Homo sapiens: one gene and its partners. The protein of the gene in region 4 purifies or fractionates together with the protein of the main gene of each other region. This does not show direct contact. Each region holds a gene or a part of one and is shown on either strand. Other genes may lie near its edges. The genes, in order: IARS1, LARS1, ARHGEF2, SDCBP, RIMS1, ANKRD28 and TARS3.

What was found.
Region 1: the proteins of SDCBP (region 4) and IARS1 purify together in Homo sapiens (affinity purification with mass spectrometry; 3 studies listed by BioGRID and IntAct, with this or other methods). This does not show direct contact.
Region 2: the proteins of SDCBP (region 4) and LARS1 purify together in Homo sapiens (affinity purification with mass spectrometry; 4 studies listed by BioGRID and IntAct, with this or other methods). This does not show direct contact.
Region 3: the proteins of SDCBP (region 4) and ARHGEF2 purify together in Homo sapiens (co-immunoprecipitation; one large-scale study listed by IntAct). This does not show direct contact.
Region 5: the proteins of SDCBP (region 4) and RIMS1 purify together in Homo sapiens (co-immunoprecipitation; one large-scale study listed by IntAct). This does not show direct contact.
Region 6: the proteins of SDCBP (region 4) and ANKRD28 purify together in Homo sapiens (affinity purification with mass spectrometry; 4 studies listed by BioGRID and IntAct, with this or other methods). This does not show direct contact.
Region 7: the proteins of SDCBP (region 4) and TARS3 purify together in Homo sapiens (affinity purification with mass spectrometry; 4 studies listed by BioGRID and IntAct, with this or other methods). This does not show direct contact.

What each region holds. Positions count from the first base shown.
Region 1 is NC_000009.12:92,262,057-92,266,355, forward strand, and holds part of IARS1 (isoleucine--tRNA ligase, cytoplasmic), read right to left. Parts: intron 3,498-4,299; coding exon 3,424-3,497; intron 3,068-3,423; coding exon 2,873-3,067; intron 1,000-2,872; coding exon 913-999; intron 1-912. UniProt on the Homo sapiens protein: Catalyzes the specific attachment of an amino acid to its cognate tRNA in a 2 step reaction: the amino acid (AA) is first activated by ATP to form AA-AMP and then transferred to the acceptor end of the tRNA.
Region 2 is NC_000005.10:146,123,217-146,127,515, forward strand, and holds part of LARS1 (leucine--tRNA ligase, cytoplasmic), read right to left. Parts: intron 3,330-4,299; coding exon 3,219-3,329; intron 871-3,218; coding exon 766-870; intron 1-765. UniProt on the Homo sapiens protein: Aminoacyl-tRNA synthetase that catalyzes the specific attachment of leucine to its cognate tRNA (tRNA(Leu)).
Region 3 is NC_000001.11:155,968,113-155,972,411, forward strand, and holds part of ARHGEF2 (rho guanine nucleotide exchange factor 2), read right to left. Parts: intron 1,189-4,299; coding exon 1,044-1,188; intron 1-1,043. UniProt on the Homo sapiens protein: Activates Rho-GTPases by promoting the exchange of GDP for GTP.
Region 4 is NC_000008.11:58,573,117-58,577,415, reverse strand, and holds part of SDCBP (syntenin-1), read right to left. Parts: intron 1,517-4,299; coding exon 1,355-1,516; intron 1-1,354. UniProt on the Homo sapiens protein: Multifunctional adapter protein involved in diverse array of functions including trafficking of transmembrane proteins, neuro and immunomodulation, exosome biogenesis, and tumorigenesis.
Region 5 is NC_000006.12:72,246,331-72,250,629, reverse strand, and holds part of RIMS1 (regulating synaptic membrane exocytosis protein 1), read right to left. Parts: intron 2,616-4,299; coding exon 2,503-2,615; intron 301-2,502; coding exon 170-300; intron 1-169. UniProt on the Homo sapiens protein: Rab effector involved in exocytosis. May act as scaffold protein that regulates neurotransmitter release at the active zone.
Region 6 is NC_000003.12:15,682,604-15,686,902, forward strand, and holds part of ANKRD28 (serine/threonine-protein phosphatase 6 regulatory ankyrin repeat subunit A), read right to left. Parts: intron 3,707-4,299; coding exon 3,619-3,706; intron 3,517-3,618; coding exon 3,399-3,516; intron 2,843-3,398; coding exon 2,623-2,842; intron 1-2,622. UniProt on the Homo sapiens protein: Regulatory subunit of protein phosphatase 6 (PP6) that may be involved in the recognition of phosphoprotein substrates. Involved in the PP6-mediated dephosphorylation of NFKBIE opposing its degradation in response to TNF-alpha.
Region 7 is NC_000015.10:101,703,492-101,707,790, reverse strand, and holds part of TARS3 (threonine--tRNA ligase 2, cytoplasmic), read left to right. Parts: intron 1-2,043; coding exon 2,044-2,108; intron 2,109-3,853; coding exon 3,854-3,932; intron 3,933-4,299. UniProt on the Homo sapiens protein: Catalyzes the attachment of threonine to tRNA(Thr) in a two-step reaction: threonine is first activated by ATP to form Thr-AMP and then transferred to the acceptor end of tRNA(Thr).

The DNA of each region.
Region 1 (4,299 bases), on a different chromosome or scaffold from region 4:
AAATTTTCAATTAAAAAAAAAAAAAAAGTAGTACACATACTACAGAGGCAGACTGCCTGGGTTCAAAATTTGCATTTACCACTCATTTGCTGTGTGTCCTTTGGCAAGTCACTTTTTCCTGTCCCTCAGATTCCTCAAAGGTCACAAAGGGATTATAGGACCCATCTCAAATGGTTCTGGGGATTAAATGAGTTAAAATGTGAAAATGCACACAGTGGGGCCTGGCAAAAAATAAGGATGCACAAAATGTTAGGTGACATCCTCTTCCTCCTCACACAGCATATAAAGTAGGATTTCTGTGTGGGTACTCAGCACAAATTCTATTTTAAAATATTTCATTTTAAAATTTTCATTTATGTTTATTTTTATTCTTAATGACTAGAGGTAATAAAGTAAAGGAAAAATGAGACTTCCTTATAATAGCAAAATGTGGGAAATAATGCCCATTGGGAGGAAGTTTCAGATGAGGGGAAGAATGGGATCTGGTGGCAGAGTACCTCGGTCAAGCCCAGTGTGGCTGTCACTAGCTTTGATCCTGGGCACCTGTGGTCTCTAGAACCCACAGCTTCCTCGTGTGTTAAAAAAAGGACAACAAAATCTACATGAAAGGACTGATGTACAGATTAAATAAGATCTATAAGCAAAAGTATTTCATAAAGTGCTAAGTTTAGTAAATGCTATTTTATTACTAGTAATATCACTAGTAGCATTATGTTACTAGCAGTAGCACAATCTGAAAGTCCTCCCCTTCCTCCTCCTCCATCAGGCTTAGCTGTCACACACTCCTTCTTGAGAAACAGTGGAGACAAAGCTCCACCTGTCACTACAACAAAGTTGACCGCTCTCACGCACTCCTTCTTAAGAAACAGTGGAGACAAAGTTCCACCCGTCACTACAACAAAGTTGACCTACCTTGCCAGGACAAGCCCATTCACAATTACGTTCTTGAAAGGCGGTTGTCCAAAGAGGGCCGTGGCCAGCACCAGCAGGGTATAAAACCTGAAAAAAAACCCCAAACAGTTCAATAAAAATAGAAATGAAGTCCAAGCATAAGAAAGAAACTGTATTTATTCATTGAATTTCTATTTTTGATAAGTCACACTTCTTGAGAATCACTTAAAGCAATGATTCTTAATCCTGGTTACTGGAGACCAATCAAATTACTGTCTAAGATTTGAAAGAAGCATTGAAATAAACGTCTGGAATGATTTACTGACCATTTCTCTGTTACCAGAGCTCCCAGGAAGTCTGTGTGGAGAGCCACATGGCAGCACTGGGTGGCCTCTCAGGACCACCCAGAAGCACCTAGCTGAAGATGAAGGATGGGTTTTGAATTTGGCACAAGATCATATGGAAAAGACAATTTGATGACAAAAGATGCAAAATGCACTCTCACCCAAAAGTGATAAGGCAGACTAGAAAATGCTTTTATTCTGTAAAATGTTATGTACCTCATTTATGTGCTACCTAGCTTGTTTCCCAAATGAACTCATATCCCTGACCACTGTCCTGGGGGTGATGCTTTCCTGCCTCTCTTACCTAGTCCTGCACTCTGAGAACATCAAGGGACATGAGCTGAGGAGACCAGACCCCATAGTTAACATAAACACTGATCCAGATATCCCTCCCACTTCTAAAGGAGAGTTGGGAGGAGCCCTGGTGCCCAGGAGAGGTAGCCCAGGCCTCAGGAATGGAGAAGGAGGCAGGCACCAAGGACACGGGATCCACATGAGGACTGTTACCAGCTAACAGACTTTGCTACTCCTCAAAGGAACAAGCTCATTGGTAAGGCATCTACCCCTTTCTAAAAACAGAATTTGTGCTGGGTAGCTGTTCCTATAGACAAAAAGGACTGGAATCTGAAGACAGCACATTCCAGAACATGAAGACTTGAATTCAATGATTACCCAAAGCTGTCAAAGAGAGAAAATGACACCAACAATTCCTTTAACACACCCCTGCAGAAACATTACTGTGAATGTATAATTAAAACCTGGGCTGGGCGCAATGGCTCACGCCTGTAATCCCAGCACTTTGGGAGGCTGAGACGGGTGGGTCACTTGAGGTCAGGAGTTCGAGACCAGCCTGGCCAACATGGTGAAACCCAGTCTCTACTAAAACTACAAAAATTAGCTGGGCATGGTGGTGCATGCCTGTAGACCCAGCTACTTAGGAGGGTGAGGCAGAAGAATTGCTTGAACCCAGGAGGCGAAGGGTGCAGTGAGCCGAGATCACACCCCTGCACTCCAGCCTGGGCAGCAGAGTGCAAGATTCTGTCTCAAAAAAAAAAAAAAAAGTAAATAAAGCCTGGGCCAGCAAAGCCAATCCATGGAAAGAAAGTAATTCACCTTCTTCCAATTAAGGAACTGTTTTACATAAGGCACCAGATAAAAATCAATGCCCAAATCCTCTCTCATATGTATATTTTTTAAAAATCTGGATTTTTTTAGAATGTTGATTTATAAGGCTAGCCTCAATATCTGAGCACATTACCAACTATCCCTCAAATTTCTAGCACCCAAACTACTGTCTTTTATGCAAATACTCAAACATTTGAGTAAATGATCTGACGTAAGCTAAGAACACATAACTTTTTTTATCATTTTAACATCCAGTGTAACACATATATTCCAAAATGCCAGTGAGATCATTGAAATTGTAAAACTACAGCCCTATTGTAGTGGGAGAGTCCTACTCAAAAGGCACTTTAATGTCCGTGCTTGGTGGTGGAGGGGAGAGGGCAGGAATGTAGCCTGTCTTATTTGCCACAATCTCTCCATCACCCAGTAGATAAATGGCAGTGACTTAGTAAAATACTCCCTAAATAAAATAAAATCAATAAAACACGTGATGAAAGAACAAGGAGGCATACCATCCTCTGGTTTGGTCGATGCCCTCGGCAATGAAATCTGCAGGAAAAGCATCCTCAAACTCCCTCTTGTTTTCAAACGGGTAATGAACCTGAGCATAGGGCATGCTGCCACTCTCAAACCAACAGTCAAACACTTCAGAGATGCGGTGCAAGGATCCCTTCCCACAGCGTGAAGGAATGGTCAGGTGGTCAACACTAACAAACAGAAAAGTAGTCATTTCTATTAACTGTAAGCATAACAGAACTTGCAGTTTAATTGCTAATAGGAAACACAAAACCCTGACAAGATATTATACACATTTGCAAACAGAAATATCAGCAATTCTCAAAGGCTTTCAGAGAGCACCATGAATCCTCCATCTGAAAGGTTATGCACCATTCACCTCACATTTCACAAGGACAGAGGCCACAATACTGCAATATGACATGAGTCATCAGCAAAGTAATTCAGCAAGCTAGTCACTTCCATGTGTGGCTCTGTAATCTGCTAGAGACCAGGTCTTAATAGGAGAATCGTAAAACTGAAGTGAATCGAACATTTAGAAACTGACCTCTCTCTGTGGAGATCTGAGATCTTTGCTCCTGACAGTTCTTCAAGTTCCGCCACTGACCCAATGCATACCACCTGTCAAAAACAAAGTTCAATAGCAGGAGCTCCTTAGAGCCAAACAGAGCATACTGAGTTAATTTATATAGCATGCATGTTTACTTTGAGAGACTGATGATTTTCTTTTTCCTTTTTTTTTGAGATAGGGTCTCACTACCATTGCCCAGGCTGGAGTGCAGTGGCACAATCACAGCTCACTGCAGCCTCAGCTTCCTGGGCTCAGGTGATCCTCTCACCTAAGCCTCCCAAGTACCTGGGGCTACAGGCAGGCACCACCTCACCCAGCTAATTTTTTGTATTTTTAGTAAAGACAGGGTTTCGCCATGCTGCCCAGGCTGGTCTCAAACTCTTGGACTCGAGCTATCAGCCACCCTCAGCCTCCCAAAGTGCTGCGATTACAGGCGTGAGCCACCCAGCCTGAGACTGATGATTTAAAGGCACATTAACACACCAATCTGGGCCGAAGGATAGTATTTGCTAATGTGGCTTCTCTCTCATGAAAGACACAGCCTACTCTTAGTCTCTGAAGAGGCCAGGGTTGCCACTGCTCCTCTGTTTCCACCCCAGTATCAGAGGGAGTCCCTACCTAGAGAGAATCTTAAACATTCATAGCCATACTCTCAATGGATATTAAGGGTTTATTATGTGCAAATTGTCAAAGTAACTGGCATAAGTGAAACATCTTAGATTATTTCTCTAAGGCATTTTAGTTTCCTCCTGGCACCTGAATCTGGCTCATTAATCTAGAATCTTCCCAAGAAAAAGCTAGAGCTAAATTATAGTCATACAGTGCTTAATGGTGGGAATACATTCTGAGAAA
Region 2 (4,299 bases), on a different chromosome or scaffold from region 4:
TTTTTTTTACTTGAGTGTCTTCATTATTACTAGGACCACTTTTTGAGTGCTCTAACAGTTTTCTAGAGCACATGACTTTTCCTTTTGCCTAAGTTGTCTGAGACCAGCTTATTTACGATCTATATATAAAGTTGTGAGTGGGGCACAAAGATTGGATGGGGAGAACGTCACAGATATATAAAAGCTATTGGTACTGTTCTAGTTCCTGGATTGGGTAGAAAATTCAGGGATGTTCATTTTATTATAAATTGGGAGGAAAAAAACACGGCAAGACATGGAACAATCATAATATATCATGAACCAAATCATAATATATCATGAACCATAATATATCATGAACCAATATATCAGTGCAGCAATTCTAAACCAAAGATTATAATTAATCCAATTCTGCAAATCAAAAGGGAGGGGGGAAAAAAGGCAACAATTCAGAGTACTCCATAACATGAGAGGCTTGGAAAGCATTTGAATATAAGGTCTCTTAAAAATAATTTGCAGTAGAATAGCCAGATATACAGTTTTTTAATGTATAATTGATTATATGTAAATTAAGAATTGATGAAATAAGATGACATATCACTTTTTTTCCTGCAACTTTTATACTCACCCATTTTTCTTCTCTCCAAAAATATTTTCGACTAATATATTTAACAAAGATACTAAACACAGAAGATGAAATTTATAAAAAGGTTTATTATAAAATAAAAGAGCTGGATTATGGTTTAACTACAGTTAACTGGTTATTACAATCCCTGGCCCTCTTACCTCAAGCGAATTAGTCAGATAGACTATATTCTCCATAAGCACAGCCTTTTCATCAAATTCTAATTGCAAATCCAGAATACGAGGCCCCATCTTCTCCAGATTTTCCTAATAGCCAAAATGGTATGGAAAAACAAAATCACAGTAAGAATATGTTGGAAAACATACTTCCTCCAAAGTAATCATTCTTCTCTCAACTGATAAAATCTTCAGATTTCAGGAGTTAAAGGAAAGGCCTTGGACTCATGATTTCCTTTACCTACATTTGCTTGTTAATGAAATTTACTAGCTCCAAATAATTATCTTTTAAAGTATTATAAGATTATGGCAGCACTGAAAAGATGGGAAGGCACAAGGTTTTCAGATTTATAAAATAAATACGGTTTTATGATTGTTTATTTAGACTGACTTAACATGCAAGCCCAAAGAATTCACTTTACAGGGAATCAGCCAAATGTGTGAAAATATCCCTTTAAGTTACCCAAAAAAAACAAAATTTTAATTTTCTGAGATACCACCTTCTTAAAGCTGTTTCAGAGAATAGTGAATTAATAATATCCAAACAAAAAATCCCCAAAGATATTTCTGCAAAGTTTAAAGAAAAAAAACTCATACTACATGAGTACTCAAACATGGCATGTAAAAAATAATTTCTTATTCTTAATTTTCTTGGGTAGTCAATATTTGCTGTGCAAAATAGAATCCTAGAGATCCAAGTACATATGCAGATATAACTACCTAGAACATGTTATACTTAATGAAAGTGACCTGATATTATTCCTGCTACTCACTGTTTTCGCTTACTATGCAAGTTCTATTTCTTTTTCTCATGGAAGTGCTAGAAAGTCATTTTCTTATTCCCAGATGTATTAATCCCTTCCAAAATTTGCAAAACCACTAATTTGCCTGGCAAATCACCAACATAATTTTAAAAATATATTACCACTCAAACGGTCTGATGCTGGTTCTTCAAATTTAAATGAGATCCTAAAGAAGCCAACTCTTGAATCTAATATCATTTTATACACACACACACACGCACACACACACTCTATATATATATACATATACACATAACTACTTTTCAAATAGGTTTCCCTGGATTCTTTTAAAACATGTCATCAAAATTAATTGCCTTTGCAACCATCAATGGAATATTTTGTTGGATCCACATGTTGACAGAGATTTGGCATTATGACCAATGACACTAGCCACTGGGGAACCAACGAACTATGAACATACCAGCACTTACATTACAACTTGATTAGTGTAGGTCAACACAGGATTCTAAATTACTTCTGAAACTTAAAATACCCTGAGGATCAAATAGTGACTTTGGTCTAAGAGAATTAAAAACCTTTTCCAAGAATACTAATCTATTATAATATTGAAGAAGTTAAGAGGTCTGGTCTCCATCAGGCATCTGCAGCCAAGAAGACACAAGAATTAAAGGACAGTACAAGAATAACTACAATATGCTTAGTAGGCTGGAAGATACTAATTTGTATTTTTAAACAACATTTACTGAGCCTACTTCTTGACTAGTGCTACTTAAGTGTGTTAGGTACACTATTTTATTTACTCCTCACAGCACTCCTAAAAAGTTTGGTTCTATAGTATCCTCATTTTATGGATGAAAAATCCTGTAGCCCAGAAAATTTAAGTGATTTGTCCAAGGTCTCAAAACTAAGGAGTGACTGATACACAGAATTTCAACCAAGATTTTTCTGGCCCCATAGCCTGCGATCTTAAGCAATATAAGCCTTCTTTCGGTTTCTTTTTGTCAAGAAATCCAGTAATACATCAGCGACGTATATGAAGAAAACTAAGGGTCTAACCCAATAATTCTCAATGGTAAGAAGTGGAAGGTGATTCTGCCCCCAGCGGACATTTGGCAATGTCTGGAGATATTTTTCATTGTCATAACTAGCAGGAAAGGTAGTTCTACTGGCTTCTAATGAGTAGAAGCCAGGGATGCCATTACATATCCTACAGTGCACAAGAAAGTGCCCCACAAGAACTATCTAGCCCAAAATACCAACAGAGCTATGCTGAGACACCCTGGTCTAACCACTATAACCAATGTTTACCCTGTTAAGCTATACCTATACAAATGTTGAATCCTGGTTCCAGGAATAGGGTCTAGGAAATGCAAGCCTCTATAAGCCTAATGTAAGCCAAAAGAGTTTGAAAGAAGGGAAGGTAGAATATGAAGGGAATAGTTCAGTGCAGCCATTCTAAACCAATTTTTCTCCCACAATAATATTTTTCACATACTCAGCAATTCCACAAGTAAACCCAAAATCTGATAGATCATTTCTCTCAGTCATTGATTGAAAAGTGCTATTTTAGCAGATTTCTGGCAGGAGACTATGTCCAAGGCTTTTCCCCATCCTTCTATTGTCCCATCTAACCATTGCTCATGTGGTCACAGCTGCATAAGGTCCACAGCTTACCTTAATCATGGCAACAAATGGCATGACTTTCTTCATGTATTTCTTCAGTTCTGGCATACTGCCTAGTTCACTAGCAATGACTTTGTTGTCAGGCAGTTTTCCGTTATTGGCCTAAGAAAAGGAAGGAGGGAGAGTAATGTAGAAAAAAAAGTCTCAAGAATAAGGCAGAACAGTAGATGTGACCAGGCATAGAATGGTGGCCTCTATCAATCCTTAGAGAACAGCAGAAAAGTGTCCAGCCCTAGCATCACGGGGAAGTGAAAGCTCAATGAACAATGCAGAAGGAACTCTCCTATTCTCTATAAATTAACAACACATACTTTTTAGTTTAGAAGAGAAAAAGAAGTGATTTGTGTTGAATATTTCTCCTGTTCAGAAACTAAATGGTCTCATAAAAACTTGTTTTCAAATTTCTAAAAGCATTTTATTAGTCATATTAAAATAAAAAATTACACAACTATCATACAAGTTTATATAATGTCTGCTTTTGGACACTTGGAAGAAACTGTTACCACAATTGTGAAAAGAATCCCTAGCTACTGACCTGTTAAAAACAGAATCATTTCTATCTACTCAAAAATAAATGTCCATATCATATATCACTGATGAGTACAATCCAAGTGTGCTTTAAATGAATCTAAATTCATTTCTTTCTACAAATATTAACGGTCCCCTCAATAGAGTGAGAAATAAAGCAACTGGTCTTTTCAAAGTTTTGGGCAACTTGTTTTCTCTTTATTGTAAAAGAAGGGTTGGGAATGAATCTAAATGAAAAGGAACATATAATACAATTTCAAATAATCTATTTTCAATTCTAACTTTTACTAAAGTACATGGGAAAAAAATATTCTACTTGTTAATATATTCCTCTGAAACACACGAAAAAGAAAAAGGGTGGGAAACACTCCTTTGCCTTATGTCACCAAAATGGTGCCACATTCAACATAAGAACACTCTTCGTGATTATAAATGAACATTCTTTTCATTCCTGTGGATGAAAACATACAAAAATCTAAAAGACAGCTGCTAATGCCAAAAGATACCACTGTTTTCAATTATCTAGCAAATGAATAGTAAGTAA
Region 3 (4,299 bases), on a different chromosome or scaffold from region 4:
GGATCTAGATTGGGGTTCCCTCCTCATCCTCACAACTCTAAATTGAACAGTGAGGAAAGTAGGGAGGCTTCACTGGTTTTCTTTTCTTTCTTTTTTTTTTTTTTTTTGAGCGGTAGCAAGCTTTATTGTGAAGAGCAAAATGACAAAGCTCCCACAGCGTAGAAGGGGACCCGAGCGGGTTGCCCATCACTGGTCCTTTCTGGGGGTTCCTTCCCCAAGTTTCATAGGGATTTACAGGCTAGAGCTTTTGTCCGCTATTCAGTAGCAGGTCACAATACCTTCAATCCTGCTCTAATCAGAGGCATCTCTGCCATAACTTCAGGAGGAATTGAGGGAGAGGGGGCAGCAGGAGCCCTCTGTGTACTGGGGAAGGAAAGAATTCCTGGCTTATACTCCCTAAAGACAGGACTACACTCAGATGTGGATGAAGGGCAGGAATTCTAACCCCTGCCCCTCAACACACACATCCCTGCTACATTCCCTCTTTCTCACTAGAAATTTGAGATGAAGGGTCCTAATCACATCTTCTGCTTGAAACAGCAGAGATTTCAGGCTCCACCCATAGTCAATAGAAAGAAAGGGGCAAGGGGACTGTGAAGTCCTGAATGCCCAGCTCTGCGCAGGAAGACAGGCAGAGCCAGCTGCAAGGCTGGCAGCTTTCCACCCAGTTCCTCTGTCACCCCCCACCCCACCCCCTCCACACATACAACATTCCTGCTCCTTCTCCAATCAGTTCCCCTAACCCTTAGCAGCTGTTCGGGGAGCAAGGGGGGTGCCTGGTGGATGACAGCTGCAAGAGGAGCCAGCACAGCCTCCCCTCCCCCACATTCCCAGATAGTCCGGCTTATGCCATATTCCAACAGCCACCACCCCTCAGAGTGAGGACAGGGAGCAAGGGATCAAGCAACTGGCCCTGGCATTTGGGCCCAGCTGGGGATCAGAGAGAAGAGTGACCCTCATGGATCCAGGCAGAAAAAACAGATGAAAAGATCAGGGTCAGTGGGCACCGAGTCTGGGTGACTCTCAGGGTCCAAACAACTTACTTGGGCAGATGAGGGCTTCCTTGGCTGTGATGCTCTTGTTACAGGCATAGCACATGGTCATGCCTGAAACTGAAATGGTGGTGAAGAGGTGCCCATTGGTATAGCGGGCATCCTTGGCTTCCTTCATCTTCTCCTTTTCCCGGGTCTGTGGAAGGGATGAGAGGGAGAGGAAGTGAGGCTGGAAAATGCCAGGGTGCCTGGAGTCCAGAGAGACAGGCTGGGGGCAGAGGCAAGGAAAAAATGCCAGCCTGAGGATGCTGGAAAGACACCAGTTCCTAAAGCAGAGCCTGCAACTGGGTGTCAGAGGCAGCTGTCCGGGAGTGACCAGGCCAGGCTCTGGGGCAGCCAGCCCGGATGGGTTCTGGGTCCCTGACCTACCTGGCCCCTACGGCTGGGCTGCCTCCTGTTGCCACTCATCTCCCTGGCTCTAGGTCTCTGCGTCCTCACTCCACCTTCCCAGCCCTAGCTCTGCTCACCCCCGAGCTGCTGTACTCTCTTCTCTGTGCTAGGGGGAAGATGCGCAGAGAGGAGGGGAGAGCAGGCGAAGCGGAGGGTGCCAGCTCACCAGCGCTTTCCAATCTATGGGAGTTAGCTCCTCTTATAACCATGACAACCAGTGTTGGATCTGCTGTCTCTGTGGCAGTCACAGTGGGGGGGGCAGGAGATCCCCTTATTAGATTGGCTGAAGGGGGCAGAATGCCTCCCCTGCCACCCCCAACCCAGGGGTCAGGATCCCAGACCTCTAACTCTTTTCACCAACCCTCAGCCACGGCACACAGGGCCTGTCTGGGAGGCAGCATGTCCCCTACTAACCTTGAGGCAAAGGCAGCTAGCTGCCTTTGGGTCACTCTTCCACTCTGGGATCTTTAAGTAAGGAAGCTCAGCCAGCCATCTTGGTTGCTTCCAGCGGAAAATCTCTCCTGCAGTCTAACTTTTATCCCTCTCATACTACTTTCCAGAGTTAAAACCTAGGAGAGTTTCCTCTATTGCTCCTTACCCAACTGGTCTCTCCCATCCTAGGAAGTCCTTTCTGACATCTACCCTCCATCCTTCAGTGTTGATCTCCGCAGATGGCGCACACCTTCCTCGGAGCCTCTGAGCCGCATTTTCCATCTCTGCTGTCTCCCATTTCCCCCAGTGCCCCTGCCTCTGCAAGTCAAGTCATTCTCCCTGACCTCCAATCTGTCCCTCTTCAAGCCCCTGTGATTCCCAAAAAGCCTGAGAAGGTGAGAAGAGGGGGATATCACTCTTCCCACTATTCTAGGACCTTCCTTAGTTGTGACTCTGATCTCTGGATTTTCCCTCCGCTCTTGGAGCAGGACTAGAAGCTGAGAAGACCACTCCCTCCAAGGTTTCCCAGGCTCTCAGAAATCAAAAATCAGGATCCAGATGGCTGAGGGTAGAAGCCCCAAGTCAGAGGACCTGGACTGGGGACAGAGGATTACAGTTCAGCGGGAAGCACTCAGCCCGGACTCTAGGAGACCAGTACTGACTCAGCCGAGGCCACGAGGCCACGCCAGCAGCTGAGAGGTGGAGGAGGGGAAGAGATGCACGGGCCTGGTGCTTGGGGCAGAAAATGGTAGAAAGAAAGGGGAAGTGTGGAGGGGCTGAGTCAACAGTGCAGGGACAGAGGGCATGGGGCTGCAGTGCCTGGGCCCAAGATCCTTCTCTTTCCTGCCTCTCTTCCCAAGCTCCAGGTTTGCCTGATGATGTCCAGAGCCCAGAGGTCTTGGGGTCAATCCCTTCTCCCCTCATGCATCCTCCCCATCCCCAATCATCCATTTTTCGCATCCTCCTCCTGTCTCCTGCTCTCTCTATGTCCTCCCTTCTCTTCTCAGGGTCTCCCTCCTAGGCTCCTCCCGCTCTGCCTTCCCTTTCTCAGCCTTGCTTCTCCGCCACTGTTCTCCTCTCCCGCCCACAGCCTCTCCTCCCCTCCTCCTCACGCAGGCCAACTGCTCCTCTACCTAGGCTTATTCAGGAAGCTGAGCTGCCTCTAGCCTCTAACTCAAACCTCTAAAATGTTCTGGCCTCCTTTTTTCTATTCTGGCACCTACCTACCCGGACCACTAGAAAATGCTCCCTTTGGTCTAACCTCCACCTATCTTGCACCAAATTATACCTCTTTAGAAGTTCAAATTCAGGCTGGGTGCAGTGGCTCACACCTGCAATCCCAGCACTTTGGGAGGTCGAGGCGGGTGGATTACCTGAGGTCAGGAGTTCGAGACCAGCCTGACCAACATGGTGAAACCCCATCTCTACTAAAAATACAAAAAATTAGCTGGGCGTAGTGGCAGGCACCTGTAATCCCAGCTACTTGGGAGGCTGAGGCAGGAGAATTGCTTGAACCGGGGAGGTTGGAGGTTGTGGTGGGTTGAGATTGGGCCACTGCACTCCAGCCTGGGCCACAGAGTGAGACTATGTCTCAAAAAAAAAAAAAGAAGTTCAAATTCACCTTTGAATAATAACCTCACAGGACCTCAAACACCAAGTCCAAAAATCTCTTCCCACTGCCATATACTCTCCCTTTTCTCCTCCTCTCCTGCCCTCCCAGCCTTCTATATAACTCAAACCAAAAGTTTGAGCATGTATTACATTTGAATTAAAAGCAAGAGGCCGGTGAGGTGGCTCACACCTGTAATCCCAGCACTTTGCGGGGCTGAGGTGGGAGGATCGCTTGAGGCCAGGAGTTTGAGAACAACCTGAGCAACACAGCGAGACCCATCTCTATAAAAAAAAAAAATATATACATATATATATATACACACATAAGTAAAAGCAAGCAAGCTGAAAATAGTATTAAAAAAAACAACATGGCTGGACCAGGGTCACTCCAGAATGGGCAGTGCTGCAGCTCTGCCCCAGTGCTGCTACGAGTACTCTCTTCCACACCTGACCTCTGTCCTTTGCCCTCCACCCTCCCCCTGTGGCATCCACAAACACTCATCTGTCTGACCAGCTCAGATGGAGTGGCAAAGGGAGGGAGAAGACTGGGGCAGCCAGAGAACAGGGTCTCTAGTGGCCCTTCCTCTCTCTGGCATCAATGCTCCACAGACAGCCCTGGTACTCTGGGCCCTGCCTCCTCCACCTCCCAACACTCACCCTCTCTCGAAGTGACCCCTGCTCTAGGTGGGCCAGCAGCGGGCAGCAGCCACAGCAGCAGCACATCCCAGCATGGGCACTGCCCAGCAGCAAGCGACCCTGGCACTGCCTAGTGCTATTGTCCCGGAGGTTGCCTGTGCCCGCCCCAGGGCTCAGG
Region 4 (4,299 bases):
AAAACTCAAATACTGTTAACCAATAACTACACTCACATGGATATTTTTACTTATGTAAAATCTCAATCAGAAGTTGAACAAAATATAAATAGGTAAGTATAAAAGAAGAATAAGCCTGGTAAAATATAAGTGCATCTACTTCTACAATCCTAAGCTAGGTCACATATTTCTATCACACATCTGTTACATTGTAGAATGATAAGCAAGAACTAGGTAGCACCCCATAAATGAACAAATGCCCTTTGGCCAAGTGAACAAATCCACTGCAACTATTACCTACAGTGGGGCCAAGGGGCCTATGAAAAGTATCTTTTCTCTTTAGGACAGAGGAAAGAACACAAGAGCAATCCTGGCGGAAGGAGCAGCAGTATACTCTATTCCCTGAAGATTCTGGAGAAAGGGCAGCAAAGTCAGAGCATCCCAACTAAGCACGCAGATGTATTTTGAGTGACATACAAGTGAGCAAGGCCATCATCGATGGCCTCAGCCCCCTGGGTGGGCAGGCAGGGCGGGGGCCTCCTGCCAAGATCAGCCTCCTCCATTTACAGCAGTGCACCACACTTATAATTTTCTATGTGGAAAGGCTGGATGCACTAAGCTAGAGATGTATGACTGAAACCGAATCCAATAAGGTAATGGCTAAAACTATAAATTGGGGTAAAGACTCAACATGTCCTTCACAATTATAAATGGTTCCTCAGAGAGTAACCCTGTTTCATATCTTCAGTATGTTAAGGTGAGAGGTAATTATAAAGTAAAGGCTGCCCTAATTAGAAAGAATATTCCATCTTTTTTTACTCAGAAAATGACATATTAAATTCAAATGTGAAGGATGTTAATAACAAATCTGCAAAAACCATCTCACCAGTTAAATACTGATCATTTGGTTTAAAAATGCACACACATCCGGGAGGCAGAGGTTGCAGTGAGTCAAGATCACACCACTGCACTGCAGCCTGGCGACAGAACGAGACTCCGTCTCAAAAAAAAAAAAAAAAAGGCACACTGACATTGACTCTCATTGGAAAGTTTTTTCTTAACCTTCACATCTGCTCTATTTAATTGCCACAATTCTATTATACAAACTATAATATATGTAGGCCAGTGAAATGTATTCCAGTTAGAATATTCAGAAAAGAAACATCTTTCAAAGTAATGTGGTCAGAAGTCCCAACTATGCCTCTGCAAAATAGAACATCCCCAATTGAAAACATTTAAGTTAGTAGATTTAAAATATTCTCAACTACAGATGCACTATTATAATTAAAGCATTTCCATTTCAAATTATTTTAACATTAATCACTTATTATGTAAGAGATTTAGACAAATTCAAATAGGTATTTAAAATACTTACATTATCTATTGATTTAAGCCTGAGTCCAATTTTTCCATCTTGATCCTTACACAAAATGACTTCACGAATCCCTTGCTTAATTTCTGCTCTACGAATTCCAACATCATTACCAGTTACAGGAGCCACCATATAGTTTATACTGGAAGGTCTTGCTACCAACTGCTGACAAAACCATATACAATGTGTCAATATCTAGAAACACTCTCCTTGAAAAAAACAATGATAATTAACTGGAACTTACTCAGTTTTGGCTTTCCAAAAAGCAATCCACAAATAATTTCCTTCCGATAAAGTTTGATGTCTATGAAAATGGCACTGGCTCTACTACTAATTCTTCACTAACTTATTCCCACACATATCATCTCTAATAGATTCAATGACTCTCTGTTGCCCTTTGAATTCACTGGCATTTGTTTCACCGGTATACTGGCTTGTCTTCATCTCAAATTTATTATCTTTGAACTTAAAGGCCATATACTTTTGAAACATTTTCCAGACGGTTCATGATGTCACGATCTTTGACAATCTACTTATCCTTTCAGAATTTCCATAAAAGGGGCAAATTTCTTACCTCACTGTTACTGACAGGATTAAATGAAAAGTGCATGTTGTATGGGCACTGGCACACATAAGACAGTCAACTATTATGTCTCTTCCCCTCTAGTAACCATCTATGGATTAACAAATCATATGCACAAACCAGAATGCCCCAGAATACCTACATTAGGGACCTGTGTCATATACCATGTTTCAAGTTTCTAATTCTTTCCAGTTTTCCTAATCAAAACTGGTTTATTTTAAGTGGAACCTTTCCCCAACCAAAAAGAAAATGGAATAATATTAGGCCACTAAAAAAAGGAAATCCTGCCATTTGGACAACATGAATAAATGTAGAGAATATTATTCCAAGTGAAATAAACCAGACACAGAAAGACAAGTACTGTCTGGGTCCCACTTATATGTGGAATCTGAAAAGAGTCAAACTCACAGAAATAGAGAGTAGAAGGAAGGTTGTCAGGGGCTGGGGTTGGGCAGGGCAAAGAATGAGAAAAATGTTGGTCAAAGTGTACAAACTTTCTCAGTTATCATATGAGTACGTTCTGGAGATCTAATGTACAGCATAGTAACTATAATTAATAATACTGTACGGTATACTTGAAAGTTGCTAAGAGTACATCTTAAGTGTTCTCACCACACACCAAAAGAAATGTAACCATGTGAGATGACAGATACGTTAATAACCCTGACTGTGGTAATCATTTCACAATGTGTGTTTGTGTGTGTTTATCAATACATCAAGTTGTATTGATATATACAGTTGAATATATACAATTTATATTTGTTAATTATACCTCAATAAAGCTGGGGAGAGGAAGATCCAGATGGAACATCAAGAGAAGAAGAATAAAATATGTGAAATGAAAAATTCACTAGATATGAAGAGATAACAGAAATCTCCAGCAACAAATTAATTTAAAATAGAACAGAAGAAAAATAAAAGGCGGCGCACTGAAGAACCCTGGAGATGCAGACACAAAAATGAAGGTTATATCACCCTTCTAGGTATTTGGGCAAAGGGATCTAAGCATCCATGTAGTGAACAAAGGAAGTTCTAAATTTTAACTACAGCCTCATGATCAGTTACTAAAATAAGAATCAGAGCAGCTATGACTCTGTTCTTCTTTGTATTTGTATATTTTCTGTAAATACAGCAATTAATCTTTCTGTTCCTCTATACCTCTTTTTACCTTTATGTATGAATTGTTGGTAGTGGTTAACTTTACACTTTTGCCTTTAAATTAAAAATATTCTGTTGGGAATGTGAATACTTAGAAGGGTAATTAGTATCATATAGTAATCAATACCATGATGACTGCCCAGAGATGGCCACATTAACTGGTATCATCCCTTTCTAGAGAAAGGGTGAGAGCAACTTCATTTATATTGAAGGGTACATGGCTTCATTTTGTACACCCCTGAGTTAAAAATGATTTTTATATTTTTAAAGATTGTAAATAAACAAATAACAATAAGAATATGTGATAAAGATCATAAGTGACCATGAAAGCCTAAGGTATTTATTATGGAGCCCTTTATAAAGTTTGAACTTTGATTTTATGAAGAAATTCATCTTTCAAGGAGAAACTATAAAGTTGTTGTTGTTGTCACATGAAATTCAAATGTTTGTACAAGTGTGTGGATATACTGAGTAGTCAAAGGAGTAGGTGGTAACAGATATTAAACTACTGTTTGTCAGCTCCAAATCCACCCTTCTAGACTCTACTTGGTGATGCTGGGCCTAACTGTGCAAATTATAATTTCGTTTGTCAGTGACTGGAATGACAAGCACCTCATTCCTTCCTGTGTGCCTCCTGCTCCTGTCAGTACTGTGTAAGCCTGGCCCTTTACACTGGCAGCAGCAGTTGGTTCCAGTCTGCAACTTTTACTGACACTCCCAGAACCAGCCTCATTACAACCCCTCAGAGGCACTAGTAGTGTCCCCTCATCCAAGGTCTGAGTCCCAGCTCCGTGGGGCTCTTCCTCAAGCTTCTAGGTTCTGCTAACTCCAATCTCTCTCCTGTGTTATCCCAGTCCTAGGAGAAGCAGCTAGCTATCTGCAATTACATCTATGTCCATTTATGTTTTTTTCAATTTTTCAACCTCTTAAAATACCTACTATTATTTGTTTTCCCAACTGCATCACCACTAACACAAGCAAGTTTTCAATAAATATTTGGTAAATACATAAATGCCAGGTACTGTATATGCATTGGGATATGGCAACAAGACAGACACAGATTTAACTACAATTATAATAAGTGGTACAAAGTGCTATGGTCATAGCAATAACCTTAATAAAAGGTTATCAGACCCATTATAATTAAGCTAGACTCTGGAGTCTAATTACATGGAGCTTTGAATTTCAAAAAGAATGTTAAAAGATT
Region 5 (4,299 bases), on a different chromosome or scaffold from region 4:
TTTCCAACACAATTTCCAACACTTGAGGGACTTCTTTTTTCAGAGATAATGTACTTTTATCTCCTCAGAATTATCTATTATATTTTTTAAAAACATCCCAAAAGAGAAAATTCTACCTTTTCTATTAGTACAGATTTTAAGATTTTTTTTTTCTAAAATTATTCACTACCTTCTATCTGGAAGAAAATACATTTTTACATAGGGATTTCGAGGACGTCCATCTACTCTAGCAGGTAGATCTGTTGCTTGCAGAACATTTACAATCAGCTGGTGTCCCACTTTATCATACCACAACTTCACCTAGGAGCAATGAGGAAAGGAATTATTTGTAAAAATCATGAGGCATTACAATTTTACATAAAACAAAATTCAAGTTATATTTAAATGAGGAAATTTTGAATTACAATATAATGCAATTACAGATATTTCTAAAAACACACCAATTTGAAAGCATAAACACACAGAACTTTACTTTTCTCTTTGAGTACTTTAAACATAACCTACAACTGGCAGGCCTTCAGTGTTACTGTATATTCTCACATATCATTTTATAAAATAAAACTAATAATAATTTTTCCAAAAAACTAAGGGAAGAGGGAGACATAAAATCATTATTATTGTTCTTAAATGTTAAAAATAAGAGTTTGAAGATTATATGTGTCTAAATTATTATAGCGTGACTAAATGCTTTCTCTGGTGTCACAGGTAGTTAAAATTAAAAAAAACAAGAGTTTGGATATTAGGAATAAGAAATACAAAGAATTAGAAGAGATCATAAAACATATTTACTGTGGGCCTATTTTATACAGGCACCGTTTAGTATTTCCTGGTATTTTTTCTCACTTATTTTTTTATTTTTTAGAGACATGGTCTCACTCTGTCACAGGCTGGAATGCAGTGGCATGATCATAGCTCACTGCAGCCTCAAACTGCTGGAACCAACAATTCTCCCAGTTCAGCCTCCCAGGTAGATGGAACCACAGGTGTACATCATCATGTCTGGCCAGTTTTTTAAATTTTTTGTGGAATCGGGGGTCTTGCTATGTTGCCAGGCTAGTCTTGAACTCTTCAGTCTCTCAAAGTGCTGGGATTAAAGGTGTGAGCCACTGCACCAAGCCGTCATTTAATTTTTAGAATTAAACTATTACAGGTTATTTTTCATGAGAGAAGGAGGAAAAAACTAAGGATACAATACACAAATGACATCTTCAAACTACAAGAAGGCCAAATGATATTTCTATTAACCAAGATTTCATGACAGTAGACCAAAGAATAATGGGGAAGTAACGTACTAAAATCCTATTGTCAAACTCACAAGAATTGGAATTTTATCAGTCATTATTACAGTATCTGCCCTGGCAGTGGTGATGACACTTTAACAATGTTAACTTTAATTTTTTTCCTTTAATTTAGAAGTTACTTTTCATTTTATGTTTAAGTAAGCATATGCTGTTAATAGGTATATGTTAGAACATATTTGAGAGTCATTAAAACAAAATAAACTAATTTAACATAGGATTAGCTTTTCATGGTAAGGAACAGATTAAGAATTCAAACCTGGATCTGTGTAAATCCATTTCTCTGATTCCCAATTGATACCTAAGATGGGGTTTCACAGAACCAGAATGGGTTTCCATCCTCTTTCAAAATATGTGGAGAATATGAGAGATTTACACATACACTGAAGAAAAAGATGGCCGGCAGATAAACCCAAAGGGTATTACAAAGATATTCAATATACTAAAAATAAAAGTTAAAACCATAAAAGCCCTTGAGCAATAAGCTTACATATATCTTCTCTGTCTCATTAAAATCAAGAGAAAACCACAAAGGCAAACCACAGAAATCCACACATTATCAGAGGAGCAAAAGGTCATTATTTGTGTAACAATTTGAAACAAATAGTTTGAAGTCCTTAAATTATAATATCAACATCACATTTTCCATCATAATCTACAAATATATGGTTCTTCATTATCCTTAACCCTAGTTTCTTCACTCCAGGTTTCCCCAGATCACATAATAAGGCAATAGTGAGAAAATGGTAGCTTTTTCAGAGAGCTTTCAGTGGCAACGAAGAGTTTTGCCAAATGCCTTAGGAAGTTAAAAAGAATATTCCAAATTTAGGCTCTTCAGGCTCTAGGCTCATAAGGTTATTACATAAATGGGGTATGAACTCCTAATATTATGTGTAAACAATTATTTACCTTAGAAACTTTTACATAGCACACAAAAAATATGAACTCTTTATTTACTTATGTTACCATTCATCAATTAATGTTCAGAGTATCTGGCACACTGCAAGCACTCAGTAAGTATTTCTGAATAAATATGTGAATAAAGGAATAATAAAAAATGCATGAAAAACTAATGAAGTAGATTATGGTGTTAAATGACTATGTATTTATTGCAGGCTTCAAGGAAAGGCGAACATATTTAAAGACAGACTCAGACAGTGTATGCAAATACTAACAGCCTCCAACATGTACAAAAAATACATACAGAAAGTTGCCCTGGTAAGACTTGTGGGGCATCTTTTAGAGCTCCAGGACTTGTTGGAGAAATAACAGAAATGGAAGGCCTTTCCATCTTCTGAGATTCAAAGGAACTTGAACCTAAAATGAGAAAAAAAAGTAAGTAATATTTGTAAGTGTAGGAAATATTTTTAATAAAATGTTAAATGCATCCTTTATTTGTATAAAACCATAATTACTATCACTGATAACAGAACCTACTTTTAATGGGATAGATTGTCTTTAGTTGTCTATTTAAAAAATATTAAGAATGATATAACGAAGTATTATGCTTATTTCAACTGGAAAGAATTGATCTACATTTCTGGAGTGCATGGTATTGCACAGGCTCTTGCATGACTTCACATATGGGTAAAGGTCTGCTTCAGAGATAAGGAAGATAGTGCCTGTTAACACTAATTATCTTGGCTAATGGATCATCTATTATAAACTGTCCTTACTGAGAAATTAAAATGAATGCATACATAATATAATTTATAAGCCACATCTAAGCCAAGACTTTGCCACTGTTTTAAAATCAGATATACCATCTATCTTAGGTTTTTTTTTTTTTTTTTTTTGAGACAGAGTTTCGCTCTTGTTGCCCAGGCTGGAGTGCAATGGCATGATCTTGGCTCACCGCAACCTCCACCTCGCAGGTTCAAGCAATTCTTCTGCCTCAGCCTCCTGAGTAGCTGGGATTACAGGCATGCACCAACACGTCCGGCTAATTTTGTATTTTTAGTAGAGACGGGGTTTCTCCATGTTGAGGCTGGTCTCGAACTCCTGACCTCAGGTGATCCGCCCACCTCGGCCTCCCCATCTATCTTAGTTTTGATCTTATAAATGAGTATCCTGAACCTCTGAAAATGCTGCTTCAAGTAATTCACCACTAGTGATTTGTTTCAACTTCACATGGAGGAGGCTGGGTCTCCTCTCAGCCACTTGGTGGAGTTCTTCACTGTTCCAAGTATACCCTGACACAGAGAGCAATACAGAGTGTTTATAGAAGGCTATTGATCCAGCAAGTACAACCTTGAACTCACCACCATTCAAACTTAGCCAATGCTTCATTGAGAAATACTGTTTATGAAGCATTGCCTGAGTATGTGCAATCCGCACATTTTTTTCTATAAGTACAAATTAATTCTCATGTCATCCTTTTGTGCCCTCCGAAAACATTTAGTGATAAAAAACAGCTATATAAAATTGTTACTATGTGTCTTTTCCCAGGTATATTTAAAATACATTTTCCTTAAGTCTCAGAACAGGAACACTGTTATTTCTAATAATGCTTGTTTGTAATATTATGGCAATCAGTGTATTTTTTAATCATATCAATAATATAAATTATGCAATTAGTCCCACTTCCCTCTTTGTATTGGTCACCAGAAAGCTCAAAGCCAAAACTGGGTCCACCTCTAGCAGAACATGATGGTATGCATTTTATATGATAACCTAGTGTCTGTTTCCTTGTTTATCCTACTTTCATATTTTCTTCTCCCTTCTAATCACTATCACTGGTTTTCCCCTAAATCACCTTTTATTTTCTATTTCTTTAACTTGGGTTCTGTAAGAACACCTGGGGAATCAAGCCCAAGTATTAACTTAATTCCCATCCATTGCAAAGTAAATATTTGGGTCACTTCTGCATTATCATTGAAAACTTAATTGTCTATATTTTATTGCACACAATATCATCTTCTGTCATACAGAAACGACTTAAATTCCCATATAGATAATTCTTTCAACCCTCTGGTTTCACAATCTCTTGACCTATTATGTT
Region 6 (4,299 bases), on a different chromosome or scaffold from region 4:
AACTTTTAGTATCTACAGCCAGTGTTTTTCTAAAACTTGGCCATCATTTCATTTTAATTTTAAGAGGTTGTTTTCTGTTCTGTTGGCATGCTTCCACTTTTCTTTCCAGCTGTACAATAATTACTAGTTAAAGTAAAAACCATTTTACATATTCTACTTTCAGAATGCCAAATTATAAAACGGGCTTTTGGCTATAAATATGGTATTAATTTTAGGCTGTCTATATAGTCGCTTATTGCATATAGCCAACACACATTAAATTCCTTCCAGCTCAAATTCAGCATCACCACAATTTTGCTACAGGCTGAAAATCAGACACATTTGTTATGATCTTTAAATGGCAACCAGGCATGCAGTTCTTGCAAAATTCTGTCTCTTGCACAAAACGTGCTTAGAGTCTAAATTTAGCAGTGATAGAGTAGGAACTCACTTTAGGGAAAATGTTCTACATATAGATCTGATAACAAACACTGTAATAGAAAGCAACTCTCCAAAGGACAGTTACAGCAGTACATTTACAACTAAATGCTCTTCCTGAGGAAAAATATCTCACTGTGTGATTTTTCCAATGGTTAATCTTCAGGGATATATTTTTTTAAAAACCAAGCAGTAAGTCTTTGCTTCTGAACAGTTTTATCTCACTGACTTTTTTACAGAAACACAACTCACAATTGTAGATATTTTCCCACTATATTAGATATTTTGGGTTTTCCTTATACTTGTAAAATGTCAAGTCACATTACAGAAACAAATCAAACATCAATGGCAAAATACAGTATCTTCTTTGTTCTAGTATGAGTACTAGTCTCTGGCCACTTCACTACACTCATTTCTACTTGCCTTAGCGAGTAGAAATGGGAAAAAGAGAAGTTAAACCCCAAAGGTTTTATAGTTTTCAAAACTGTTTTGGTTAAGGATTTAAGGTAGTAAAAAACAAAGAGACTAAACTAGCTTGTTCAATGAGCAACAGATTTAACTATTCAAGTTTTTATGGTGCTATCAGTACTCAGCTGAAGGATAACCAACAGTATAACAGGACAAACCTCAAGAACCCAAAATGTTCTAACGGCAAAAGAATACAACTCCCAACTTTGGCATAAGGACTAATATGAAAATCAAAATATTGTATCTCAGAAATACTTGTGGAAACATTTAATGAAGTTATAATTTTACAAGATTCAGCTTTTTCCTCTTTTGCTTTAACTTGATAACTTTGTCAGAACAGCTCCCAGTGAAAGAACTATGAAACAGCATATTATAGAAAGATAGGAAATCTCAACTTCCTGGTAAGGCAGTCTGATTTTACAACAGATATTATACTTATTTATTTTTAGCAAATGGGTATTTATATAAAGAGACAACTTATATTTTCTCTGCATTTTGAGGGAAGGTTATTAGAATTGTGAACTACAGCTTTGTAGATCTGCTGTCATAATTAACATTAATCTTGAAGCTACACTGAAATTGAAAACAAATTTTAAAAACCTCTAATTTCTCTACTAAAGCCTGAAGCTTGAACTTTGACAACACTGATGCTTGCACTGTATATAATGTACTTGAGTTTTCTAAGATGATCAAATCTAAAAATATCTCAACATGCTTCATTGCATAAATTATTTTAATTAGTGGCATTTCATAAGCCAAACTGCATTTTTAACATCTATAACTTCAAAGTAGCTTTATGCTTCCCTACGTGACCTTTTATGAGTCTACCTATAAAAGCGATGACTGTGACTGTGAGCCTGTAGGAGGCCAAAGAAAATCTCTTTTAACCATGTAGCAGAGTTAACCCATCAAAGTTTCTAATTCTAAGACCTGCTAGGGATTTATTCCTTTAAAACATTGAACATGGATATTACTGGTAATATAAGAATGTTATCTTGCAATGTGCTCAGAAAACATACATAGATTTCAGTTTAGAATGTGATACATCTCACTGTTTCTCCTACTTTTGGTTATTTTTCCCCTAATATGATTGTATTTAGAAAGTAAAAGAACATGGCTGGGTGCAATGGCTCATGCCTGTAATCCTAGCACTTGGGGAGTCTGATGTGGGAGGATTGCTTAAGCCCAGTTGTTCAAGACCAGCCTGGGCAACATAGTGGGACTCTTAAAAAAAAAAAAATAGTAAAAGAACACAATCAAAATACAAGCACACTATATAAAAGCAATGGAAACATTCTAAAAACCTCCTAAAAATGCAAAATATTTGTGGAAATAAGGATCTAAGAAAAACTTCAGGCTACATGGTGGCTCATGCCTGTAATCCCAACACTTTGGGAGGCTGAGGTGGGAGGATCACTTGATGCCAGGAGTTCAAGACCAGCCTGGGCAACATAGCAAGATCCTACCAAAACTAAAAAAGAAAAGAAAAGAAAAGAAAAACCTCAAAAATACTTCATGGCTTATCTCAGAACACCTTTGACAACTAGTGTCTTGGCTTTAGCATGACAAAGGACAGGAGTGAGCCTACGTACTAAGTATTATTAGTACGTGAGCCTATACAGTAGATTATTCCCAAGGTTTTTGCTAATTTTAAACTTAAAATTTGCCTTATAAATATGTCATTCTTTTATCTCTGTTCACTACACAATGATATGCATTTGTGTTTGTATACTTAACCATTGTAGCAAGCCCAGTGAAGTGCCGTATATCCATGATTGTCTGCTGTGGCTGGATTTGCATCCATAGATGCTGCTGACTGCAAAAGGGCTCCAAGAACACCAATGTGTCCACAGGCAGCAGACAGGTGTATAGGCGTCCGGCCCCTGCTATCCCGAAGTAAGCACTTAGCACCATGTTGAAGTAATGCATCTACACATTCTTCATGGCCTGTAACTGCCTGAAAGAAAATAATTTAAAGGTAGTCAAACATATTATGCTAAACATTACATGCCAATTTCAGCTAATTAAAAACTTTAAAGACCATACTCTCCATATCCTTCCATCAATTAAAGCCATTTATCATTTTATGAGTAATTCTGTATTTTTATTGGAAGTGGTTTAAAAATTCAGTTAAAGCAAGAACCCTTCTAAAATGCAAATAGTATGAAAACAGGAAGAGAGAAACTTGGTATTCAATGAAAATAATGATATTTCAAAGGTGAAAAAAGATTAAAGTGTATAAGAAAATAAGTGAGATAATGGAAAAAGTCAAATTGACATTAATTCTACTAAAAGTTTTAGAGTTTTAAAATTTTGTTCTAACATTGTTCTCTAGATTAAGTTGTACTCTGTAATTGTTCAAAATTAGCATTTAAAAACTAAGATACTGAAAGAAATGGTAAAGACTATTTGACGAACATTTAATGAAGAAAAAATAAACATAACCTAGTTCAGTTCTAGGTAATATGAGGTCATAAAAGCTTTTTGAAAGGAAAGAGCATATTTCTGCTTACCCCTCTATGCAACGCTGTCCTTCCCCACTTATCTTTGGCATCTACATTTGCTCCTTTGTTCAGCAATGAGTAAACACAGTCTGTGTGCCCGTTGAGAACAGATAGCATCAGAGGCGTCCTGAGCAACAACAGGAATAGGTTCAGTGCTGTCACTTAAGACTGTACTCTGGTTTTCGAAATACGCCCTTCTGTGATGCAACAATTATTTATCGAAACTTACTGTCCATTTCCATCTTGAATATCCACTGCATTCTGTGGTTCTGCATTTCCTATTAATAGCCGTAAGCATTCTGAATGACCATTTGTTGCTGTAAAGTGAAATTTAAACATTTCAGTAATTACATATAATGATAAAATAGAAAATGTCCATCTAAAAGCACATCTTCTAGAATTTACTTTTGGGATAGTTGCACTGAATTTAATATGCAAGAATGAAAACTATAGGTAAAAAGAAGGTTTCTACGGCCTTTGACTGTTAAAGCTGGAATAAATGTGAATTCCTCACAGTAAAACATGACAGGCAGACCGCCTACCCAGCACCCATGCCCTATCATCTGCCTCTAAAAGAATGCTCATTTTATTTAGCTCTCTGGCAATGTGGTCAGGAAGAGTGCCTTGACTCCAGCAAAGGGATGATACCATGATTAGACCAAGTCAATCACAAGAACCCCATTCTCCTCTGACAGTGATCAGTTTTAAGGTGAGCAGCACAGGAACCAGGTCTGACTACTGAGATGCCGATAAGTCTAGAGGCTGCTGGGAAATACTTTTATCTTTAATAATGAAAAGCCCCCATTCCTTCCTGATTTTAGATGCAATCCTTAAAAGCAGCAGCAATAATCCCACAACATGAATGCAAATGTAAGAGAATAACAGAATTTAATCCAGAGCTCTGACACCG
Region 7 (4,299 bases), on a different chromosome or scaffold from region 4:
ACAATGTTGTCAAACCATCACCAATCTCCAAAGCTTTTTATCTTGCCAGTCAGAAACTCTATACCCATTAAACATTAGCTCCCCATTCCCGCCCTGCCCCCAGCCCCTGGCCACCACCATTCTACTCTCCGTCTCTGAATTTGGTTCCTCCAGGCACTTCATATCAGTGGAATCATGACAATATTTATCCTTTTGTGACTGGCTTGTTTCACTCAGCAAAAAGTCCTCAAGATTCATCCATATTTTAATATTTTAATGTGTGTCAGAATGTCCTTCCTTTATAAGGTTGGATAATATTCCATTGTACGGATAGACCACATTTTGTTGATCCATTCATCCACCTGTAAACACTTGGGTTGCTTCTGCCTTTTGGCTACTATTGTGAACAGCGCTGCTGTGAACATGGGTGTGTAAAGTTCTGTTTGAGTCTCTGCTTTACTTCTTTTGGGAATATACTTAGAAGGGGAATTTCTGGATCCTATGGCAATTCTGTTTTTAAGTTTTCGAGAACTCGCCATACCGTTTGGTGCAGTGGCTACACCATTTTACAGTCCCACCAGTGATGCACAGGGGGTTCAGTTTTTCCACATCCTTGCCAACACTTGTTTTGTTTTTTTTTTAATCATGGACATCCTAATGGTTGTGAAGTGGTATCTCATTGGGGTTTTGTTTTGACTTGCATTTCTCTGATGACGTACTAATGGTGAGCATCTTAATGTGCTTATTGGCCATTTGTGTATTTTCTTGAAGAAATGTCTTTGGAGAAATGTCTGTTGAGCTCTTTTGCCCATTTTTTAATTAGGTTTTTTTGTATTTGAGTTATAAGAGTTCTTGATATATTCTGGATATCCATTTCTTAACAGATATGTGATTTGCAAATATTTAATTCTGTGGGTTGCCTTTTTTGCAGCTACTTTTAAGAACTAAACACAATTAATCTTTGTTAAGGAAAATGATTTGTTGTGAATATATAGATACGAAACAGTTAAATCATGCAGATACGGGTTTTTCTCCCAACAACTAGCTTCTTTAAGTAGTTATTTAATATAAAGTGCCTTGTATACCCCGATAGTAGTGATGGAAGCAGAAAAGAAAGGAAAAGGAAAAAAACCCTTAGTTTTATAAATATATCATCATTACGATAAACTTTGCTTTTGTTTTTATACAAATTAATAATATAGCTGTGTCCTTGTCAGAATTTTATTGATTAATGTTAAAATTAGATCTTCTAGAACAGTACTGTCCAATAGAAACATAATGGAATCCACTAGTCTGAGCTACATGTGTAACCTATAATTTTATGGCAGCTACATTTTAAAAGTAAAAGTTGCAATTAATTTTAACAAATTTTTAACCCAATATATAAAAAGTATAATTTCAATGGTAGCCAGTATAAAGAATGATTAACGAATGATTTTCTTCTTCTTTTTGCAACATTATACTTCCAAAGTCCAGTGTGTTTTATACTCACTGCACATCTTCTTTCAAATTAGTGGCATTTGAGGCCAGGTGTGGTGGCTCACACCTGTAATCCCAGTACTTTGGGAGGCCAAGGCAGGCGGATCACTAGAGGTCAGGAGTTTGAGACCAGCCTGGCCAACATAGTGAAACCCTGTCTCTACTAAAAATACAAAAATTAGCACATAGTAAAAATACAAAAATACAATACAGGCATGGTGGTACATGCCTGTAATTCCAGCTACACGGGAGGCTGAGGCAGAATCGCTTGAACCAGGGAGACGGACGTTGCAGTGAGCCAAGATGGTGGCACTGCACCCTAGCCTGGGTGAGGGAGTGAGACTCTGTCTCAAAAACAACAACAACAACCACAAATTAATGGCATTTGAAATGCCCAGTAGCCACGTGGCTTGTGGCCTCCATGCTGCACGGTGTCGCTCAAGGCTGTGAGCTCTTTGTATCCCTCGTGTCTCAGCACCTAGAACATCAGTAGATGACCTTTCAATGTTTCTTGAAGAAAAGTAGAGTTGTTTTCTTCATTTCAACATTGTGTGTAATAATGTGTAAATATGTTTTTCTTCGTAGTACAATAAATTTAAATGCCGCATTCTGAATGAGAAAGTTAACACTGCAACTACCACCGTGTACAGGTTTGTGTCCACACATGGTAAACGCTGCTCAGTGGTAAACTTGAAGGTGTTAGCAGTAGAGGCCGAGTTTGTTTTCTGGTTGGAGATCGATTTTTCAAGTTGTGTAGTTGATAATCTACCGTAGTTACAATCTTCAAAATGTTTTCACTAAAGAGAAATGATTATTTTCCCCTTTTTAGTAATCAGGACAGTACTGAGACCCATATTTTGTTTCCTGGGTGTTAGCTATAACAGGATTTTTCTCCATGTGAGTGATACTGTTGGGAAAGGAGTTTCTATTCTGTCCTTCCACGTTCTTATTAATGTGGCAGTGGGGGCCATTACAAGCCATCTCCTCGGCAGTGATTCTCTGCCTCATACTTACTGTCCAGAGTGCAAGTGTAGAAGAGTCTGCCCCATTGTCCAGAGTCCAAGTGTACAGTCTTCATGCATTAGCAGGATACTCATGATGAGACCAAAAGAAAATACTGGGAAACAAAGGCAGGATCAAATGTAAGAGGAGACAAGTGAAGTTAATACCAGAATCACTTAGCTCTGTTCATTTAACCTCAGGTTCCTGAGCACCTTTTTCTTTATTCGTGTGTATACGCCTTATATGTCATTGCTGTTCCCCTTTCCGTGTGTTCCGGCCATCTGGGTGCTGCTAGGACTATCACAGTACCGCCTTAGAAGACCTGGTATTTATTTAATTATAACCACAGATATTCTCCCTCATGGTACTTACTTTCGACAGTCAAGGACTTATGGTTCTCTGGTTTAATTGTACTGTAAGTAAAATCATATCCCCTTTGTGCAAAGCTATGCACGGTGCATTTCTTAAAGCTTAAAAATAAATGAAAATGTAGAAAACAGGCCAAGTTTTAAATTTCTGGCTTCTAATGCTTGAGCTCTTGGGTTTGAGAACCTTACTTACGTCAACATTGACACTTTTTGTAGTTTTTCAATTTGAATGGCTTGTATTTAATTTTTGAAAAAAAAATAAAGCTTTTCTTTTATGGCTTTCTTTTTTTTTTTTTTTTTAATTTTTTGAGATGGAGTCTTGCACTGTTGCCCGGGCTGGAGTGCGATGGCGCGACCTCGGTTCACCGCAACCTCTGCCTCCCAGGTTCAAGTGATTCTCCTGCCTCAGCCTCCCAAGTAGCTGGGATTACAGGCGCCCACCACCACGCCCAGCTAATTTTTTATATTTTTTATTAGAGACAGGGTTTCACTATGTTGGCGAGGCTGGTCTCGAATGCCTGACCTCGTGATCCACCCGCCTCGGCCTCCCAAAGTGCTGGGATTACAGGTGTGAGCCACCACACCCGGCCCTGTGACTTTCTATGTAAAGATTAGAGTATTGAAGCCTTTCATGCTAATTTGGCATTCCTTCCCTTCATCTGAGTGTTGTTTACAAGCTCTCTCCCTAGAGAACAATACACAAAGACTGACCATTGAGAGAGATGACATTTTCGTGTTTGCCACTCTGTAAGCCAGTCCCTTTTTGTATTCATTGTAATTTTTAAGTTTTTAATCAGAGAATTGCCTAGTTTCTTTCAGAAGATGTTCTGTGGTTTTTGAATCTAGAGGGCAGAGTGGACTCTGAGGCTAGATGAATCACCTCTCTCCTTCACCCTAAATTAAAAATGGCATTGCTACATATAAATAAGTGAAGCTCTACCTAAAACATAGGATATTATGGCTTATAATGAATAGTCCAGAACACTGTAACTGTGCCTGAGCATGTCCTAAATATTTCATTATAGGTGCGGTCCATTAATTGACCTTTGCAAAGGTCCACATGTAAGACACACTGGAAAAATTAAAACCATCAAAATTTTTAAGGTAAGGATTGATTTTTTTTTAATACAGTAAACTTAAGGTGCACTAGCTATTAAAGGATTTTAATCATATCTTATTCAATCATATCTTTTGTAGTCTGAACATCATGATATTTTAAAATATTTCATTCTTATTTGATGAAAACTAATAAAATCATTTAGAATTTTGATAATTAGAACACTATAGGTGGCTTTTGTTTATCATTTTACCTTATTGTAAGTGTTATAACATTTCTTTTTCATACGATATTTTATTTTATTTTTTATTTTTCTGAGACAGAGTCTTGCTCTGTTGTCCAGGCTGGAGTGCAGTGGTGTGATCTTGGCTCACTGCAATCTCCGCCTCCTGGGTTCAAGCGATTCTCCTGCCC